2 separate regions of the Homo sapiens genome follow, and region 2 is linked to region 1. The links come from fine-mapping of genetic effects on gene expression. A gene starts in region 1. The other region holds a variant in brackets. All regions are shown on one strand. Distances are from middle to middle.

Region 1 (5,373 bases):
CAGTTCAACTAGAGAGATTCAGCTTCCTGGTGTTCCCAGGGGGATCTAGCTCTGAAAAGAGCCCCTTTCTTCTGTCAGGACATCCTCAGCAAAAAAGGCTGCAGGTCTGAGCTGAGCAGCCTGGAGAGTGGGGATTCCAACTCCCCCCGAGAGTGTCTACCTGCCTGGCTTCCTCCCTGAGGAAAGTCACTGTCCCAGCCCAAGCCCTAGGGGCCCTCACTGTTGGACCTGCCCTGATGCTTTGCCAAACTCAGAGGCACCTCTCCTAGACGGACAAGGCAAAGCTGACTTTCACTGTTCCCTGGGTGATCTGCACCTGGAGGAGTGATCAGGCAGGGATCCAGGTGATGGGACAGAAGGGGCCAGGGCAGCCACTGTTGTTCACTGCTGGAAGTGTGCCAGGGGACTGGAAGGTGAACAGCAATCCCACCTGTCTCCTAGAGACTCTGTCCTCCGTGTGTAGGGGAAAGTAGGGGATGGGCACACAGGGAGGAATCCAGCCCTGGGGCTTCCTTGAAGCCAAGTGAGCAGCCTTCTGTATTTGTTTTCCCACAAACAGTCTTTGAAACTGGGGCAAGTGTTGAAGGCAGAACAGAGTAAAAGAAGCAGCTTCATGAGGCCAAACCCAGTCTCTCCAGGTCTAGGTAGTCCAGCACAGGTTCTGGGAGTAAATGCCAGCTTTACCACTTGATTTCTTTGGTACGACCTTAACTTTTTGCCATCCTTTCACTAGTATTTGAGAACCCTCTGCATATTAGGGCATCAATGCTAAGCAAAAAATGGGTTCAGTCACCTTCCTGGAGGTTCCAATCAGTGGAGGAGACAAATATTAATCCAACAACCAGTACCCCCCTACCCCTACCCCCACAGAAAGTGTCAAATGCCCAAGAGATAGATAGTATATAATTAGAGAGACTTCACTCTCTCTGGAAGGTCAGAGAAGGCTTTCCTAAAGAAATGATAATGGAGCTGAGGTCTGGAAGAAGCATAGGAGTTTCCTGAAGAGGGTAGGAGGGGGCACTGCACACAGAGGGAACAGGACAGTCAAAGGCAGGCCATTTGGCAACAGGTGACTGGAAGGAACTGGAAGAAGGCCCATGAGGCTGAAGTACAGAGTGAATATGCAGGGTCTAGGCAGACCATGCAAGAATGTGGGTTTCTCCTAAGAGCAATAGGAAGCCTTTTGAGGTGCTCTTAGCAGGGAAGTGAGATGATCACACTTATCGTTTGAGAAGATTACTCTGGCAGCACAGTGAACAACGTATTGGAATGGAACCAAGGAGCATTCAGGAGGCCAGACAGAAGGTATCAGGTATTTGCCTGTAAAATGGGGGTGATGAGAATACTATCTTACAAGCTGTTGCCAGGATCCAATGAGATACTGCATTTTAAGTGTCTAGTCTAGTACCTGGCACATAGTAAAGGCTCAGTAAGCGTCGATATTGTTACTTTTATCATTGGTTCTTTGCAGAGTGCACATATTTCTTATCCAGGTCTGCTCCTGCGTGATGGGGTGGAGGGAGTAGTTGTGGTTTCCAGAGTGAAAACGTGATTTGTGTCAAATCACAATGTCGAGACCAGAATCCAGGATGCCTGAAGGCCCGATTAGAATGGCTTAAAAGTATGGATTATTCAGGAAGAAAAACGGGTTCCAATCGCTCCTACTAAGGACGCTGGAGGGATGGTGAACGATCCTTTAGATGGTAAGCCCTAGCACTTATTGAGAAAAACAGGTGCTTCTTTGGTCGGAGAGCAGGTGTAGGGCTCGCAGCCGCGTGCGCTCCCGCGGAGGCGGGGGACCCTCGCCACTCCCCCGCCCCACGCCCACCCGCGGGCTTCCGACTGCACCTGCTCCCCCGGCTCGGAAACGCGGGCCGGGTGCCGGGCTGCAGGCAGAGGGTGCCCGGGGGAGGAGGTCCCGAAAGCCTCCTCCACACGCCTGCACCGGCTGCCCCCTCCCCAGTCACGTGGCCCGGTGGGTGGGGACCGACCTGAAGTTGGAGAAATCCGGAGCGCTCCCAACCTCGGAGGGAGTCGCCAGTCCTCCGGGCCCGGGCGGTGGACCCTGGAGCCCCGGCTGGCGGCGTGGAGGTGCGTTTCTGAGAAGCCGAGCAGCGGCGCGGGCGGCGGGACTCGAGGCATGGCCCGGCTGTCGGTGATCCCCGGGTCGGCCACGGCGTGGACAGGTGAGCAGGTACCCGCGGCCAGCGGCAGAGATGGCCGGGGCTGCCAGGGCATCGGGCCCCAGAGCCCACGCCAGTCCAGGGGATGCGGGGCCCCCACGCAGGAGGGGGCGGTTGGGTGAAAAGGCCGCGGTGGATTCTCGGACTGCCGGGTCAGTCCCCACCAGCGCCGCCGCCTCCTCGCCGGCTTTGCCACCGGGTGAGCAGGGGACGCGGGACGCGGGACGCGGGACGCGAGGGAGCCGCGCGGGGCGTGGACTCTGTGCCGGCCCCGCCCCCCGCGCGCGCACTGGCTGCTCCCCGCGACGTCACGCTCGGCTATAAAAGGCGCGGCTCGGGGCCCTTGCGGCGCTGGAGGAGCTCGAGGCTGAGGCTGCCGGGGGGCTGTGGGCTACCGGGCCGCCGGCGCCTCAGCGATGTTTTACTCAGGGCTCCTCACTGAGGGCGGCCGCAAGGAGACCGACATGCGGGAGGCGGCGTCACTGCGACAGCAGCGCCGGATGAAGCAGGCGGTGCAGTTCATCCACAAGGACTCCGCCGACCTGCTGCCCCTGGACGGCCTCAAGAAGCTGGGCTCGTCCAAGGACATGGTGAGCCCCCGCCGCCGTTCTCGCCCCGGCCCCGGCGGCTTCGCGCCCGCCGTTTTCCGAGGCCCGGCCGTTGCGGCTTTCACTGAGTCACGGCCCGGCCCGCCGCTGCCCTTGGCTCGCGGTCGCTGCGTCGCGGATTCCTCCCCTTCCAGTACCCCTGCTGCGGTTTCGGTGGGGATTCCGTCGTAGCTTTTCTAGCTTGCGCTCCCCTCGGCTGTGCCTCCTCCCTGGATGTCTCTTCTCCAGTAGAAAGAAGAGGTCCTGCCCTGCCCTCTTGCCCTCGGGTCTTCTTTCTTTTTCCTTATTCTTAATACCGAATTTTGTTCACGGGGCTTGTGCCTCCTATGCTGTGTGGCTGTTCCTATGACCCAGACAGAGGTGATTCCTAATGGCTTTCCGTGAGGGGGAAAGAAGTGGAAAGAGGGTTTTTTGACAGTTGCCAGATCCAGAGGACTTCTGTTGAATCCATTGTCCCCCTATGCAAAACCCACTTCTCTAGTTTTGGTCCTAACTTTGACCTTCCATCCTGAGTGGGGAGAGAGAAAAGGGGCCAAATGTGAAGGTTTCCTGAACCCCCAACATCTCTTCATCATTCTCCTCTTCCAGCCCCGCCCCCAAGGAGTGGGTAGAGGGAGGAAGCCAGGCTGCTGCATCTCACCGACCAGCTAATGTGTGCATCTGGAGCTGGGGTGGGTGCAGTCTTTTTTTCTAGCACAGTTGTTCCTGGCATTAAGTAGAAGCACCTCAGGACAGGGGGCCTGGGGTCAAAGATGGTACTGTCCTCTTTCTATAGAATGGGATGGATGGCTAAGGGTTACCAATATAAAGAACTGTATTTGTCATCCCTCAGCCACTGTAGTGGTCCTGGGCCAAGTTTATGTTTAACTTTGTAGTTTTATCTGGAGTTTTCTTGTAGTTTGATTGTTTTCTTGAATTTCACAATCGCTTTATTCATTTGGGTGGTAATATGTGAAACACTAATTAAATGTCTTTTAACAAATGAAATAGGTGCTCTGCATAATTTTTCTAGTATTTTTTATTTTAAGCTTTTGAAATATTTAATTTTGGATGTGGTTGTCGGCCCTAGTTCACTGAAATTGCCATTTCTGGCCCCAGGAGGGCAGAGCTTCTGCATCCATTTCCTTTTTTTTTTTTTTTTTTTTTTAATTTAACAGCTCTAATGATACACAGGTACATTATATTATACACAGTATAATATAATATACAAAAATTTTTCTCCTCCCTGCCATTAGTTACTTCTGTGCAGAGTTTGTCTACTTCAGTTATCTTGCTCTGTTTTTTTTACAAGTTGTGTTTTTTTGTTTTGTTTTGCTTTTTGCACAACCCACAGGATAGTTTATCTGATTTATGCTAACCCAGAGTGATAAGTGATTGAAATGTGCTCCTGCAAAAGAGATAACTCTCTTTTCCCTTCTTTCACTTTAAAGCAATCTCGATTCATTTAACAAATCAGGTTCGAGAAGTATTCTTTCCTTCAGGCCAAATAATCCTATCCTAGTTCCTAGAATGCTCAGCAATCAATAAAGAAGGAAGTATTATATTAAGAGAAGAATTAAAATACAGAGTTTTTAAATGCTGGATTTGGTTGTCCCTCGTTGTCGAGGAGTTTCCTAGCCCTGAGAGCTACCTGAACTTCCTTCTGCCTAGGATTTCTTATACTACTTCATGCTGTGTAAGAATTCCATCCGCTTTTCTGACTCTAGTCTGTCTCAGTTGAGTCACAAAGGGCTGATAGCATACAGCACAGGCAGCAGGCTGCAAAGAGGAAGGAGCCTCAAGAAGCAGGATATTGCCTTGAGTATGACACATACACATGACAGTTGACTGTAAGGCTCTGAATCATGGTTCACGCTTTCTGTGCCCCACCGTCATGGAGTTGATTTCCCTCTCTCACTGTTTTCACACCTATAATGTACAAGTGATTGCACAGAACAGCCAGGTTACAGAAACCAAGGCAGACCGAGGTAGGGCTAGGAGAGCCGCAAGCGCTGGGGTGAGGCAGCATGCTTAAACTCTCTTGGAACTGTTGTTGCAGCCTTAGTACAATCTTAGAAGTGACCTTAGAAGTACATTATTATTCTTTTACTTTATAAATACATGTGGGATAGACCAGTGTTGACTCAATTTTCTCTCACTGCAAGGGAAATTTGGAGGATGTTAAAATTAATTGAATAGTTCTTACTTGGAGTAGTTTATAGTATAATCTCGATAGAAGGAGTCCAAGAAAAGGGAGAGGATAGCATCAGAGGGAGATAAGGAAGAGAGAGGAGAAATTAGTTGTTATTGACTTTTGGGTTTGTGAAGATTGTAGGTTGTTTTTCCTCATACCAGCAACCTATATTTGAATATACCGCTGGGATTTCTGAATTATCTACCTCTTACTATGCTGTTTCTGTAATGTTCACTGCTTGATACCAGCCTGCCAGCTCTTTTAGGACTGGCAGAAGGCAACCATAGGAAATCAAAGGGGGTCATGTTCTCTTGGCCCCAGGAAAGTGCCTTTGCCTATTCCTGTGTATCTGGAGTTGGCTGATACAAAGTCTTCTGTGGAAATTATATTTTTGTCTGCCCCTTTTGCT
Region 2 (5,373 bases), 1.0 Mb after region 1:
ATCAACCCCCATTCTGAGAAGCTAAAGTGGCTGTTGCATAATGAGGCAGGGAGGATTCATCTGAAACTTGGTCGCTGGAGTGTCTTTTGGTGCCTTCATGCTGAGGGATAATGGTGCATAGCCAACCACAGCCAACAAAGTAGGGTAGTGGCAAGACAGTCAAGGGCCCAGGCCCTCAGGAAGAGCAGCCCAGACCAACTTTAGTGTTGACCAGGCATGAAAGAAATCTGGAATTGGTGGGTTGGAGGGGGAGCGGGGAGATGATGAATATTAATTGTGGCTGAGGACCAGCTGCCACAGGCGACTATAGTTTATTCCACTAATTCTACTCCTGAAAGTCCCTTTTCTTTTTTTAAGAGCTTGCATACTCGTAAAGAGTCCACACTCTAAAAGAGTCAGTGATAGTGTGGACTTGCTGTGGGGGAGGAGCAGATCTGAGCAGTGTAAGGGGGGTACCCTCTCTAACACTGGGGGTGCCTCCTTGATTTCAGCACTGTGGCGGTGGACAGCCCCACACGCAGGGCTCACATCGCACCTCAATCTCTCTTAATTAGCTAGGGAAGGATGCAGCCCTACTGTAGTTGTAGCCTCTAAATATGAGGAAGTTAGCCAGCCTCCCAGGAGAATTCTTCAGCCAGTGGGGTAACAGGCTAAATTCCCCAGCCTTCCAGTCCCTCAGTGGGAGAATTCTGAGGGGTATGTCACATGGCTCCTTGGAGGTTCCTCAGTGGGACTGAGTCCCTGTTGCTGCAGAAATAACCAGCTTGATACCTTCAGTTGCATTAAGTTCTTCCCATCCTAGTCTCCATTTGCTTTTACTTCTAAGATCATATTATGGGTTAGTTTTGTCCCCCTTAAAAGATATGTTGAAGTCCTGGCTGGGCGCGGTGGCTCATGCCTATAATCCCAGCACTTTGGGAGGCTGAGGCGGGCGGATCACCTGAGGTTGGGAGTTTGAGACCAGCCTGACCAACATGGAGAAACCCCATCCCTACTAAAAACACAAGAAATTAGCCAGGCATGGTGACACATGCCTGTAATCCCAGCTACTCAGGAGGCTGAGCCAGGAGAATCGCTTGAACCCAGGAGGCAGAGGTTGTGGTGAGCTGAGATTGTGCCATTGCACTCCAGCCTGGGCAACAAGAGTGAAACTCCATCTCAAAAAAATAAATAGATAAAATAAAAAAAAATAAAGGCTTTGGGGGCAGTATCAAAGACCGTTCCTTGATCTCAGACTTCTAGCCTCCAAGACTGAAAAAATAGATTTCTGTTGTCTTAAGCCACCAAATTTATGATACAACAGCCCCCTCTTATTCATGGTTTTATCCATGGTTTTGCTTTCTGCAGTTTCAGTTACATGCAGTACAGTACAGTTATTTTGAGAGGCTGGGGGGGGGGGAGAAAGAGAGACACTACATCCACATAACTTTTATTACAGTATATTGTTATAATTGTTCTGTTTTATATTAGTTATTGTTGTTAATGTCTTACTGTGCCTAATTTATAAATTAAACTTTATCATAGGTATGTATGTTTATGAAAAAACACAGTATATATAGAGTTCGATACCATCCATGGCTTCAGGTATCCACTGGGGGTCTTGGAATGTATCCCGCATGGATAAGGGTGAACTGTTGTACTTATTATGGTAACCATAGGAATCAAATGCAGATCACCTCACACGTAAACTATTTTTCCCCAAGTCTTTGCCACATGTTCTGTTGCAAGGGGACCCAAACTATGTCCTCCCTCCAGCTGAATTTTTATATCTAAATCTGGGGCTCCCATTGTCAGCTAACCATTACCTCTGTCTATCCCTTGCACTTCCAATCAACAAAGCAATTTTACTGGGACCATTGGACAGGATCCTATCTTGTACCTCTCACTTCTCTAACCTCCAGAATTTGGCAAGAGTCCCTCACTTTCCTGTCCAGAACTCTAGTACCATGTGGAAAGTCCAGGTTCTCTTATAAGCATCACCCTTTCCCTGGAAGGAAAGCTCCAGGAACCTCATTTTGGTTGTCAGGTCCTGAGCTAGGGTTTCTCCTGGGCAACAGCAGCTCCAGAATTTCTGTATAGAGGGGTTTGCAGATTATAATCTGATTGGAAGGGGAGTGGGCCATAGATTTACTTGAAACTGTGTTATCAAACCAAGTTTAGAAATACTATGTGTTTATTTGGAGTGATTTTGGGGGTGGGGATAGAGGAAGATGGTTTGGTTTCATCACTCTGTGGCTCAAAGGTGGCCAAGGGAAGCAGCTCCAAAAGCTTTGGTCACTTTTTTGGCACCATCCTGACCTCTCCAAAGCAGAAGGTGCTTTCTCTGGGCAGGCCCTCAGAAAACAGCTCAGGAACTAAGGGAATGCCACTGGCAACCTTTGGCCTTTAAGTGGTGTAAGGGTGTCCTCTAGTGGCCATGACTCAGAAAGCCTCTGGCATAGAGCAATGCTCCTGAGACTGGTGGCCTGTTATAGTTGGGACCAACATTGTGGGACAGAGACCATTATAAAATTGATGACCATCATCATGGGACAAAACTTAAGCAAAGTACTGGAAGACCCTAATGAGACAGAAAATACCTTCACAGGACTGACAGACAAGATGGATCAGACAAAC[T/C]ATTGTGGGACAAACATCTAATTCACAGCTTAGATCATCGCCATAGGCAACTGCTTGCCTTCTGGGAGACTTCGCTGGTGATAAGGGGAATAAGGGGGACAAACAAATGGAATTTTGTCAGCTTGCAAGTACTTGCATTACTGAGCATGCATGGATTCCTAGACTCTGCAACGAGAAGCAAGTCAGTGCTGGCAATTAGATTTCTATCTTAAACAACCTGGGTTCTCTTTGAACACTCCTGGAAATGCTGACTATATCTAGTATGTGGGGAAAATGCTAATTTCTTCATCAGATATGCTCAGAACCTGAAGTCACAGTTATAGGCTGCACCAAGTAAACTTTCAGTAAGAACTGATTCCTCGATGTTCTAAGGAGAGTGGAGTGAAGCTTGTTGGGGTTGAGTCTGGCTGTTGTTGGCAGCTCTGTGGGTGCTGGGAGGGGAAATAGTCTATCTGGGATGGATGGGGCAGAACCAGGTAAGACACCAGTGCCCTGCTGAAGCCCTTGTCTCATTACACTGTCCTGTGTCAGGGCAGGGAAGACTCAGTTTACCTGTTCAATCCTTCTTGCCAGAGCAAGAATCCAGCAAGACCCCCACACTTGCTTCCCTTCATGGGTCCAAAGATCTCTGTGGGCCACATTCTTCCCAGCTTTATAGCTTTCTGGTCCTTGCTAGAAACCCTCTGTACTGGCCTCCCAGGACTCTCCTGACCCATGAGACTCTAAATAATTCTCTCTCTTAGGATTCCAGCAGAGGTCAAGGCCTCACTTGCCTTCAAGCAGCCCACAGGCTCAGGAGTGGCCATAGATTGTGGGTGGGAAAAAGGAAGTGCGATCAGGTTCCCACGTCCCTAGAATCTCGTTTACTCTTCAAAAGTTAATTTGATTGAGTTCATTTTCATGAGGGCTCTGGCTTGGGCAATGGAGGAGTTGGGGAGGTTTATGGTATGGGCCTTGGAGGGCAAAAAGTGGAATAATATTGTCTCTGGTCCCTTCTCAGTTTCCCATGCCCTCCGTCCGTAGTGTCTGAATCCTGTGGAAAGGGGGCATGCAGAGCCACAGGTGCATTTTCCTGATGGTCTCCTTCAAACCCAGAAGTTGAGCAGCACGACATGGGCTTCCCAGGACACAAAGTATGACACACAGCAGGGAAGAGAGATTGACCTAAAGAAGCAGAAACTCAGACATTTATGTCTGCACACAGTTGTCGACCATGGAAGATATCTATTAGCACAAAATCAGAAAGAACCCATATGCCCAACACTAAAAAATCACTTAAGTAAATCATAGTTTACCCGTATAACAGGAACCTATAAAACTATTTAAAATAAGGTTTTTGAAGATTTAATGACCTGGATAATAATCATTCTAAAATGTTTAGTTTAAAAAAAGCCAAAATAGAAAATTCAAAACACTGTTTTAAAAAAAGTTGTTTGTAGAGAAAAGGGATTGGCACAACATGTTAACAATAATGATCGTTGAGGGCAAATTTGAATTATTTCTATTTTTTTCTTTCTCTTTTTTCTATATTTTCCAATCCTTAAAGATAAATGTTACTCATAACAATAAAAATATCATTGTTCAAAAAAGGAGACTGAGATTTTTGTGAGCTGGTTTGCCCTCCCTGTCTGGCCCTAATAGAGAGCACACCAAAGTCATTGTAAGGTCATACATATCCCTTGTCCCTTACAGAGGTGGTCAGAATATAGTGCAGTCCTCCAGCAGACCAATTTAGCAACAGGAACAGAGGGATCCTGTGCCCACCCCTGCAGAGAGCAAAAAGACAGTCTCACTGTGTGTGCTTCACCTGATCCAGATGGAAGCACAGATCCTGGGATCCCTCCTGAGCTGCCGCTAAGAGGAAAGGGGCCTCAATCCCTCCCTCCGCCCACCAGCTGGAGATAGACACAGCCTCCAAAACTGCCTGTTTCCCCTTCTCCTCTACCCCCCAGTTATCATAAAGTGTATATTTCTTCATTCAATGCTAACATAATATTTGGCAAATAATAGAAGCCCAGTGAATGCTAAATGAATGAATGATGCCTATGGAGCAAATGCTGTTAGTGTACCTGGGGTCAGCGGGCCAGTGAGATGCTTTAGGGACTCATTGCCACCTGAGATTAATCTGCTTGCTGGGTCAGGGGGCCCACAGAGACAGAGTTCTTACACAGCCAGTATGCACAGAGAGTCAGTGTTCCTGGGGATGATGTGTTCCCTCGGGGTTGCCATGTTCCCTTCTGAGTCAAGTGATCAAGGTGCCCTTGAGGTTGGGGTTCCATAGGATCAGTGCATCCATGGGTTTGGTGTCAGGTTGTCCACTGGATAAAGATTCCCCTAAGGTAAAAATGCTCATGATCTCAGTGTAAATTGAAGCCCATCTGAGAAGGTACAGGAACATACAATTTATGCCTATGAAGCTAATGTTCTCTGTCAAAGCAACCATCAAAACCAAGTTCACTACCACTGGGTAACTGGTGCTGAACAGATTCTCAGGGGAATAGAGAGTAAGTGAGAAATGGTGGGGTGGTGGGCCCATGGCTTAGTAGGGCAGGGTGGTTGGCATGGTATGTGGGACTGGTTGAAAGGATCAGTTAATTTAGGTGGCTCTGGTCAGTAGAATGATGTGATATAATTTTAGGAATAAAATGGATTAGTAATTTGAGGGTTCTAGTCAGGAAAATGATCGGCTAGGGAGTTCTTGGGAAGCTGTTTGAAGGGCTGGGTAGAAAGAGATTTGGGTAAAATTGTCGACAGCCT

Which allele goes with the higher level. Positions count from the first base shown, and alleles are read on the strand shown. Sizes are in standard deviations (SD) of each study's normalised expression.
In carriers of allele T in region 2, the expression in monocytes after LPS of the gene that starts at base 2,534 in region 1 tends to be lower than with C alone (large effect, 1.8 SD a copy in Quach 2016).

What was found. PIP is the estimated chance that this variant, and not a neighbour inherited with it, causes the effect.
Region 2: its variant is fine-mapped to the expression of NRIP3 in monocytes after LPS (Quach 2016, PIP 0.95).

The regions. Positions count from the first base shown.
Region 1 is chr11:9,001,162-9,006,534 of GRCh38, reverse strand. NRIP3 (nuclear receptor interacting protein 3) reads left to right here and starts at 2,534. Exons shown (of 7, transcript NM_020645.3): 1 at 2,534-2,773. The coding sequence starts at 2,600. NRIP3-DT (NRIP3 divergent transcript) reads right to left here and starts at 2,447. Exons shown (of 3, transcript NR_183663.1): 1 at 1,992-2,447. RefSeq lists an enhancer at 2,438-3,357.
Region 2 is chr11:8,003,601-8,008,973 of GRCh38, reverse strand. No RefSeq gene overlaps it. Among named protein-coding and RNA genes, the nearest start is that of CASC23, 10 kb to the left of the region's middle. The variant T/C (reference allele first, on the strand shown) is at 2,617.